Linked DNA regions of Homo sapiens: region 1 is reported to be linked to region 2. Evidence: microRNA targets listed by miRTarBase, many of them from high-throughput screens and not tested one by one. Region 2 holds a microRNA gene; the other region holds the end of a gene's coding sequence.

The links. The annotated mature microRNA hsa-miR-548az-5p reads CAAAAGUGAUUGUGGUUUUUGC and lies in region 2 at 2,768-2,789, shown strand. An mRNA with a match to its seed (bases 2 to 7 or 8) in the 3' UTR can be bound and repressed. Matches are read on the target gene's strand: a 7mer-m8 pairs with bases 2 to 8, a 7mer-A1 pairs with bases 2 to 7 and ends in A, and an 8mer does both.
Region 1: miRTarBase lists NT5DC1 as a target of hsa-miR-548az-5p. Seed matches in the 3' UTR shown: 7mer-m8 at 2,245-2,251, 8mer at 2,949-2,956 and 8mer at 3,562-3,569.

What each region holds. Positions count from the first base shown.
Region 1 is chr6:116,243,544-116,247,956 of GRCh38, forward strand. NT5DC1 (5'-nucleotidase domain containing 1) reads left to right here. Exons shown (of 12, transcript NM_152729.3): 12 at 366-4,413. The coding sequence ends at 481. Among named protein-coding and RNA genes, the nearest start is that of TSPYL4, 8.3 kb to the right of the region's middle.
Region 2 is chr8:119,322,423-119,326,835 of GRCh38, forward strand. MIR548AZ (microRNA 548az) reads left to right here and starts at 2,749; the gene lies at 2,749-2,843.

The DNA.
Region 1 (4,413 bases), not on the chromosome of region 2:
AGTGAAAAATAACCTGGTACATCCCTTTTGCCTCTTAAAACCTTTTTATATTCAAGTAATGTTTCTATACTTGTGGATATTCTGTTAGACATGGTTATCTCATTCACATTTAAATGCCTAGAAGCCTTTTTTATAGCTGTTGTAAAAGTTTGTCTTTATTAGCCATATGTATTACAATGGTGGTTGGTTTATACACATTTTTAACCTTATAATAATAGCTACACACAGACCTACTGAAGGAGCAAAAGAAATATTAAAATTTTACGTCTAAAAAATAAGTTTTATTAGTGAATATCAAGTTTTGATTTGTTTATGAAAGGCATTCAGAGACCTGTGCAATAATTAAATTTTTTTTTCCTCCCCAGAATTACCTCTGGACTACAAATTTACAAGATTCTCTTCAAGCAATTCAAAAACAGCTGGCTACTATCCAAATCCTCCACTGGTCTTATCAAGTGATGAGACACTGATATCCAAATAAGTTGTCTTTACTGAAAAATGAAGTGAAGACCCATATATGCAGTTAAAAAAAAGTTAATTTTCAAAAAATACTGTAAAAGACTTTAAGGAACAAGTTTTATTGACCAATAAGTTGATATTTGTCCATAGGTCTCCTTTCTATAAATCATCTTGATGTTTAACAACTCTTATTATATTAAAATCTCAGTATCCTAAAACTTAGAACCTTATTGATATTTTCTATACAGTAGTTTTGTGATTAGAATTCACCTGGGGACACACACTCACACGCACAGTCACTCTTACACATATGCCTAGTCCAGTGGTTCTCAAAGTGTGATCCATAGACTAATAGCATAGCATTACCTGAGAACTTGATAATGCATATTTGCAGGCCCCACGCAAAACCTGCTGAATCAGAAGCTCTGAGAGTAAGGCCTACCAATCTGGTTTAACAAGCCCGTCAGGTGATTCTGATTTACAGTACAGTTTGAGACCCACTGGCTAGAACATATCCTCCAGAGACTTGGCTTAATTGGTCTGGGTAAATATGGCTGAGCGTTGTTATCTTTTGTTATCTTTTATATGCCCTAGGAAAGTACAACCAGAATTGAAAACCAACTGATCTATACCAGTTCTTTCAATTAATAGTCAAGAACATTGAGTCCAGTGAGATTAAGTGATTTTTGCAGGCTATGAGGTTTTATGCTATTCCTGTGTTCTCCAAAACAAGAAAATAAAAAGACATGACTTATTCTCTGTTCATACAGCAAGTATGGAAAAAAGATGATCTAGAAGTCAACTATCTCAACCTCCATTGTTACCCACTAGGTTTTTTTCTAATAATGTTAAAGGCTATTTAATTTATTTAATCAACTTTAAGCATTACATTCTCAATTGGGGACAAAAATTGGTTCTTGGGGTGAAAAAATATTAGATATGGCTTGTGGACTTCCAATATCATCCTATCCAACAAAATCTTATTCCTTAGTATTAATTTATCTCATTGGGAAGAAATTTGTAGTTAAAACTATTTAATGTAATTTGAATTTAATTTCTGTAATTGGGAAGGAGGGTAATAATGAACAAAAAGTTTGAGAAAAAAATGCTTTAATGGGTTTTACAGGCATGCTACAATCCAGGACTGTGGTGTTCTATGTGCCGTGTATGGTCATATTAGTAGCTATTTGTTGCAAGATACTTGAAGCCAAATGTTTGCAGTATAGGTTCCTGGCTACTGTTTATGCTGTGATTTCACTCTGTCTATCATGGGCAGTATTAGAAAACACACTGGTTTTCACTATCTGGTTTACAAACACTATCATTATTTTACCTGGATTGAAGTGCAGAATTTGGCATATCGATGCATGCAATGGAAAGAAAAAAAATTTGTTAAAATTTGTAAATGTTCAGCTAAATCTCAGATATACTGTGGGATGAGTATCTCAGGGTAAGTAACAAAAAAACAAACAAAAAAAATCACTGAAATTTTTCCCTCACAGTCAGTAGCTTTGTTTGATATTTAACAATAAGTATATGGTGATATACTTGAAATTTATGTCCAGAATGTCACTGGAATATTACAATGAGCATAAATAATCAAGCTTAGGACTAAATGAAAGATACTATCTCATGTATGCTTTAAATAGAGAATTTATTTCTTTTAAAAATAAAGCTATCTTTCCTTATCCATGTTTACTCTGTAAATGGCAAATAATACATCTTTAAATGCTTATGAACTACTGTTAATATGAAAAATGAGAAGTCCAAAATAAGAAATAACTGCACTTTTTGGGCCACTTGAGTAGTGGCGGGGGTTCAGGAGGCAGAATTCAGTTGTCAGAAGTTCTAGTATTCCCTTTATCATTCCACCTAAAGACCCTGAACAAGTTACCACCAAATTTGGCTTCAGTTTTTTCCATCTTATGAAAGGAAAAGTTTAGTTTATTTCTAAATTTCCTTCCTTTCTAGCAGTCAGTATTTCTTCTAATGAATGTTTTTTTTCTGTAATTAGAAAGACTATAATTAGGCTTTTTAAATTTGTATTTTCATTCTTTGTAAAGAGTGCCAATGGATATGAAGATTAAAAATAATCCAAATCCATAAAAATTAAAAAGAAAATATTAAAGAAGTTATATGAAGCAAAAAAATTGTATAAATGGACAGAAGACATGTAATATTCGCATACAGGCAAACATTCATAATCTAAAGGACACCTAAAAATAGATGTAAGCGAGCGGAGGTTTTCTTTGCTGGCCACTGTTTATCGCATCAGCAGAGGAAAGATCTGAATGACTCAGTGACCAAATGTTTTGTCAGAATCTGGTATTTGGAATACTGAGGTAGTAAAAACTTTATCTGAACCATGAATTACAATCTAAAATCAACTTCTGAGTTTGTTAAACTCTAAACTGAAATCAAGTATTATTTCCCCACCAATATTCATATCCAAAAATAACTTTAAATACACACACACACACACACACACACACTTTTAGTGAACTGGTTTGAATGAAAATAAATTTATATAATTATTTTATATAACAAATCAGCATAAAATGGAAAATCAAACTGCCTCTCTAGATATAATAACCTTCACTGACTGTTGGAAATACATGGATAGCTTTTTAAAATCTTCAGTGTTGGAGTAACAGTCCCTTACATCTTTTCAGCCTCTTGAGTACAAGAAGACTATCATAAGAGTTAGTTCCAGATTGGTGCAAGACTGGAATACACTTGACTGCTTTTATTAAAGCCATGAGGGCATACCAAGTAATTCACCCAGTATGGTCTTATTGCCACCCTTGAAAATCCCTGGGCATGGTCCAGTCCACATAGAATGAATTCAGAAAGGTGTCTCTTGTTGGTCTCTAGAACTATCCTCAGAAATAATAGTAAAACAGTGGTCATGAGTAGCCTCACTAGGCTACTTCATGTACATTATCTTGTTTACTCTCTATAGCAACCATATGAGATGTATATAATTATTAAATTGTACAGATGGGAAAATTGAAATTCAGAGAGATTAAATACAATGCTTGCTCTGTGTTACACTGTTAGTAAGAGAGCAATACATGAACCCAAGTTTGATCCTCAAAATCACACTTTTAATTACTTGATACATAATGTCTTCCAATATTGAATCTAGACTAGGGCAAATTCTCAGCCCAAAACCACACTTCAATTTAGCAATAATGTCGTGCTAGGACATGAGAGGGATTAACATTGAAGACACAGCCTCTATCTTTAAGTAATTCATAATTTAGCCAAATATATTAAATATCTGTAATATAAAACTTACCTAGGAAAGTAAAATAGAGATCCAAGAATCAGGAGTCCTAAAGCATATAATGAGTCTGTTCCTCTTGGAAGCCACACATGTCAAGGTCATCAGTAAGCAGGCCTACTCTTTCTTCATATTCTGGGTTAATGTTCACCTTGACTGCTTGGTAAATTTCCCTCACTGGTGCTGAAGTAACCAAAATGGGGAAGGAGTGATGAAAACTCATCTTTGAGTAAGCTTAGTGGGAAATAGTATATCTGGGCCTATAGAGAAGTTGGGTCATTACTTAGAATGACAACTGGAAAAGTACATAGACTGCTTGCCAATCAGTTTGTTGTACCATGTACCTGTTCACAGACTCTTTTCAAAAAACAAGTTTATTTTACTTTTTTTGGTACTTTGGTCATGTTGTTTCCTTGGTAAAGATCAAAGTTGAATAAAGCTTAACAAAGTTTAATAAAGAAAAGGAATAAATTACTATCTAAATGTGTTAAAAGCAATCACCAAGTTTAATCACTTAAAAAATAAATATTCTCTTAACAGAAATGTCAGCGGTTACTTACAATGCTTAGCAGCTAAATTCCATGAGTATAACGTTTAATGTCTTTTTGGTACATTAAATATTCAGTGCCTTTGATGAAGGGAACAAACTGATAATTTCATTCATGTGC
Region 2 (4,413 bases):
TTTTTAGCCCACAACCCCCCATCCTTCTCTAGTAATCCACAGTGTCTATTATTCCCATGTTTACATCCATCTGTGCTCAATGTTTAGCTTCCACTTATAAGTGAGAATATGTGGTATTGGTTTTCTGTTCCTGATTAATTCGCTTAAGATTATGGCCTCCAGCTCCAACCATGTTGCTGCAAAGGCATGATTTCATTTTTTTATTGCTGTGTAGTATTCCATGAGATATATATATCATATATATATGTGATATATATATATATATCAAATGTGATATATATGTGATATATATATATATCACATGTGATATACATATATTTTCTTTATCCAGCCCACCACTCATGGGCACCTAGGTTGATTCCATGTCTTTGCTATTGTGAATAGTATGGTGAACACATGAGTGCATGTCTCTTTTTGGTAGAATGACCTGTATTCCTTAAGAGTATATACCCAGTAATAGGATTACTGGGTCAAATAGTAGTTCTAAGTTCTTCGAGAAATCACCAAACTGCTTTCCACAGTGGCTAAACTAACTTACATTCCCACTAACTGTGTCTAAGTGTAACCTTTTCTCCACAGCCTCATCAGCACATGCTGTTTTTTGACTTTTTAATGATAGCTGTTCTGACTGGTGTGAGATGGTATCTCATGGTTTTGCTTTGTATTTCTCTCATGATTAGTGATGGTGAGCATTTTTTCATGTTTGTTGGCCACTTGTCTTCTATTGAGAAGTGTCTGTTCACGTTCTTTGTCTATTTTTAAATAGGGTTATTTGGTTTTTGCTTGTTGATTTGTTTAAATTCCTTATAGACTGGATATTAGACCTTTGTCAGATGCATGGCTTGGGAATATTATCTCCCATTCTATATGTTGTCTGTTTACTCAGTTGATGGTTTCTTTTTCTGTGGAGAGCTCTTCAGTTTAATTAGGTCCCACTTAACAATTTTTGTTTTTGCTGCAATTGCTTTTGGGGACTTGGCCATAAATTCTTTGCCAAGGCTGATGTCAAGAGGGTATTCCCTAGGTTTTCTTCTGGGATTTTTATAGTTTGAGGTCTTACATTAAAATCTTTAACCCATTTGTAGCTGATTTGTGTATATGATGAAAGGGTCCAGTTTCATTCTTCTGCATATGATTAGACAGTTATCCTAGCACCATTTATTGAATACGGAGTCCTTCCCCAATTTATTGTTTTTGTCAGCCTTAGAAGACTGCCTATATTTCTAATTGATTACTCCTAATGGGTTTCAACTTAGCCAGAAGGATATTTCCAAAAATCAGATCAATCTTATTATAACTCTAAACCTGGCATCTGACTTCTCTCAGTGTAGACCAAGTAACAACACCAGACATAAGGAAACAGTGTGTATTAGGTGATTCAACCATAACACCTCACTATCACTAATACAGCATAAGCAAAGACATCCCACTCCTCTACCATCTCCCCCTTCATACTACATAGACATCCACACATGCACACACGTACACACATTCACACCCCCCCACCCACAACATGCACACACCCCTTTACATCATCATCAATACAACAGGCACTGGGAAAAAGATAAAGAGAGGGAGAAAGCCAACAACACATCCAACCCTATCCATATCGACACATAAACCCTGTTCAATACGTATACTATACAGAAGCCCTGCACAAGCTTTTAAAAAAGGAAAGTTTTACTACCCCAAATTAAGACTATTTTTAATCAGAAGTAAATAAAAAGTTATTTGTCAAACTGAGATATCACTGTTTCTTGTTGCCCAGCAGGGAAGGAATTCAACAAAGCAAACCTGGCAACAGTTATTGAAAAAAAAAATAGAATTGTCTTACATTCACAAACCATTAACTTGAAACTTCTTCATCAAAACTTTTATTTGTGCAAAGGCCTAGAGGTAAGAATAATCATGATTTATTCAGAGAAAGAAAGAAAATTTCAGAATGTTTGGAGCAGAGAAAACAAGAGAGAAGGAAAAAAGATGGGATTGAGTGGCTAAATGAAGGCAGTTTATAAATAACCCCCAAAGTATTATTCTAAATGTAATGGGGGATGATATTTAATCAGGATAATGCTATGATCTGACTGGATTTTTGGAACCATCCCTCTGGCTCCAATAGAAACATTTTTGGAAGTAATGAATTCAAAATACGGAAGACCAGAAAGGAAGGTGTTTTGAGACTAAAGACAAAAGATGATTGCCTGAACTATGATAATAACAAAAGATGAAGGTAAGCAAAAAATAAAAGGAGAGCCATTTTATCAAATAGAAACACAAGGCTTGATAACTGATTACATATAAAAAGTAAATGAGAAAAGGGCAAGTCATGGAAAATTATTGGGTATTTGGCTTTTATAATTAGGTAGATGGTGGTAATTTCACTGATAAAAAGGACACTAAAGGGGGATATTTATAGGATTTTATGTGGTGATATCTACTAGGTGACTAACAAATTAGATCTGAAGCTCTGGAGAAATATCTTGGCTGAAGATATAGATTTGAGAATCATGATTGAAATTATATAATTGAATTTGTGAGTATGAAAAATATAATCCTCAAAGAGAGGCTACGTGAAGCAAAAAAATAAAAATTCTATCTAGGCTAGAATCTGGAAGAAAATTCATATACAAGAGATTAGCAGAAAGCAGGGAAATTCAAAACAAACTGGGAAAAAGCAGAGTAATTAGAGAAAGTTTAAAAAATGTAATAATAATAGGGAAAAATATTTCACAAAGTAGGGAATATTCAAGATTGTATTAGGTTGGTGCAAAAGTGATTGTGGTTTTTGCTGTTACTTTTAATGGCAAAAACTGCAATCACTTTTGCACCAACCTAATAAATTTGCTGCACAGAGATCAAGTCAGTTGAGGATCAGTTAAAGAAATTATTGGTGACTCTGGCAAGAGCACTTTCAGTGGTGTAGCATGGGACTGGTCTATCAAAACTGCCATCTTATAATCATTCATATAAAACAACTAACCAATAATAAGAATATGGAAGACAGACTCGGCCTGTGTGCTTTGGCAACTTTAAGTTCCTTTGGTACTGCATATGCTGATCAACAAAGTAAATGATATTGAAGGTGTTGAGAGTATGGATACTATGCAATAAGAAATTACCCACAACACAAATGTACCAGAATTTGATTTGACGTGGAAATTTTACAAAATTTGTTTTGGGATTCAAGCTTGCTCTTTGGAAGAATAGTGAAAGACTTACTTATCATCTCCGGAACTCTAAACTTGCTGATGATCAAGGATGAGACAACCAAAATTATTATCACCATAAAAATATTAGTTAGAAGGATTGCATATCATTCAAAGTGTAGTATTACTACCTAAACATTCACTTTCAAATATATTCAAAATTGACTTGGAGTAAAAATTAATATCCATATATGCTTTATATGTTGCAATTCTTCCCAGAAAATCTTATCTTAGGGTCCATTTCACCATCAATATTTACAATGGCAGAGCTCAAAACAGAATAGCTTGCTCCTCCTTTGATCTAAATTGAAAGTGAGAGTCTACTGTATTGGGATTACACAGGTTTAGTGTATTGACCTCCACTGAGAAGGCTGGGAAATCATTGTGTTGTACAGTAATGTCAAATTATACACTTTGACTTTGAGCATTTTTAATGACAAAATTAAAATAAAATGTGGAAATTTTAATATTTATTCTTTTTTCCCAGAAGTTCATGCCATGAAGTGATATTCATCTTCAACTTCAACTTAGGCTGAATATTGACTTTAACCCTTGGCTAGACATTCAGCTAAAATGTGTAATTTCGTGGACCCTACCCAACAGTGTTTCATGGGCTTTTTTAGAAGGGTCTGCAATGTAGCATGCTTGCACAACAGTAAGTAATCAAAAAGCAAGATTCTTGACAAGAAAGTTAATGTGTTTAATTAACATATTAAGCAATCTACAGTAGCCTGAAATGTGTTAATGAAAATCATCTGGGGGAAAAATAAAAGGAAGCCCAGAAAAAGTCCATATGCCTAGCTGATGTGCTAGTTAATTCTACTCAAGGAAGGTTTTCTGTGAAGATTAGTGTAGCAAGAAACAAATCCCTCTGAATTCATGACACGATGCATGCCAAAAGAATAAGGAATTTGGGATTATAAAAATGCCTTATGGTGTGGTTATAGGTACAGGAGAGAGAGCAAAGATAACTAACAACACAAGATTGAGAGAGGATAAATAAGGCAGAGCCCTAGGAGGGATTGGCCTTGGGTAAGAGAGGTCACTTCCTTTCTGGTAACTGATATGAAAGAGATAGGATATCCTTGGCTTTGATCTTTGTTCTGTTTTGCTTCCCTTTGAGGATTGAATTAATTTGAAGCTGAGCTTCTGTCTTTTTTGAGTTTGTCTGTTTCCAGTTTACCCACACAACTCTGGTGTAGCTTTG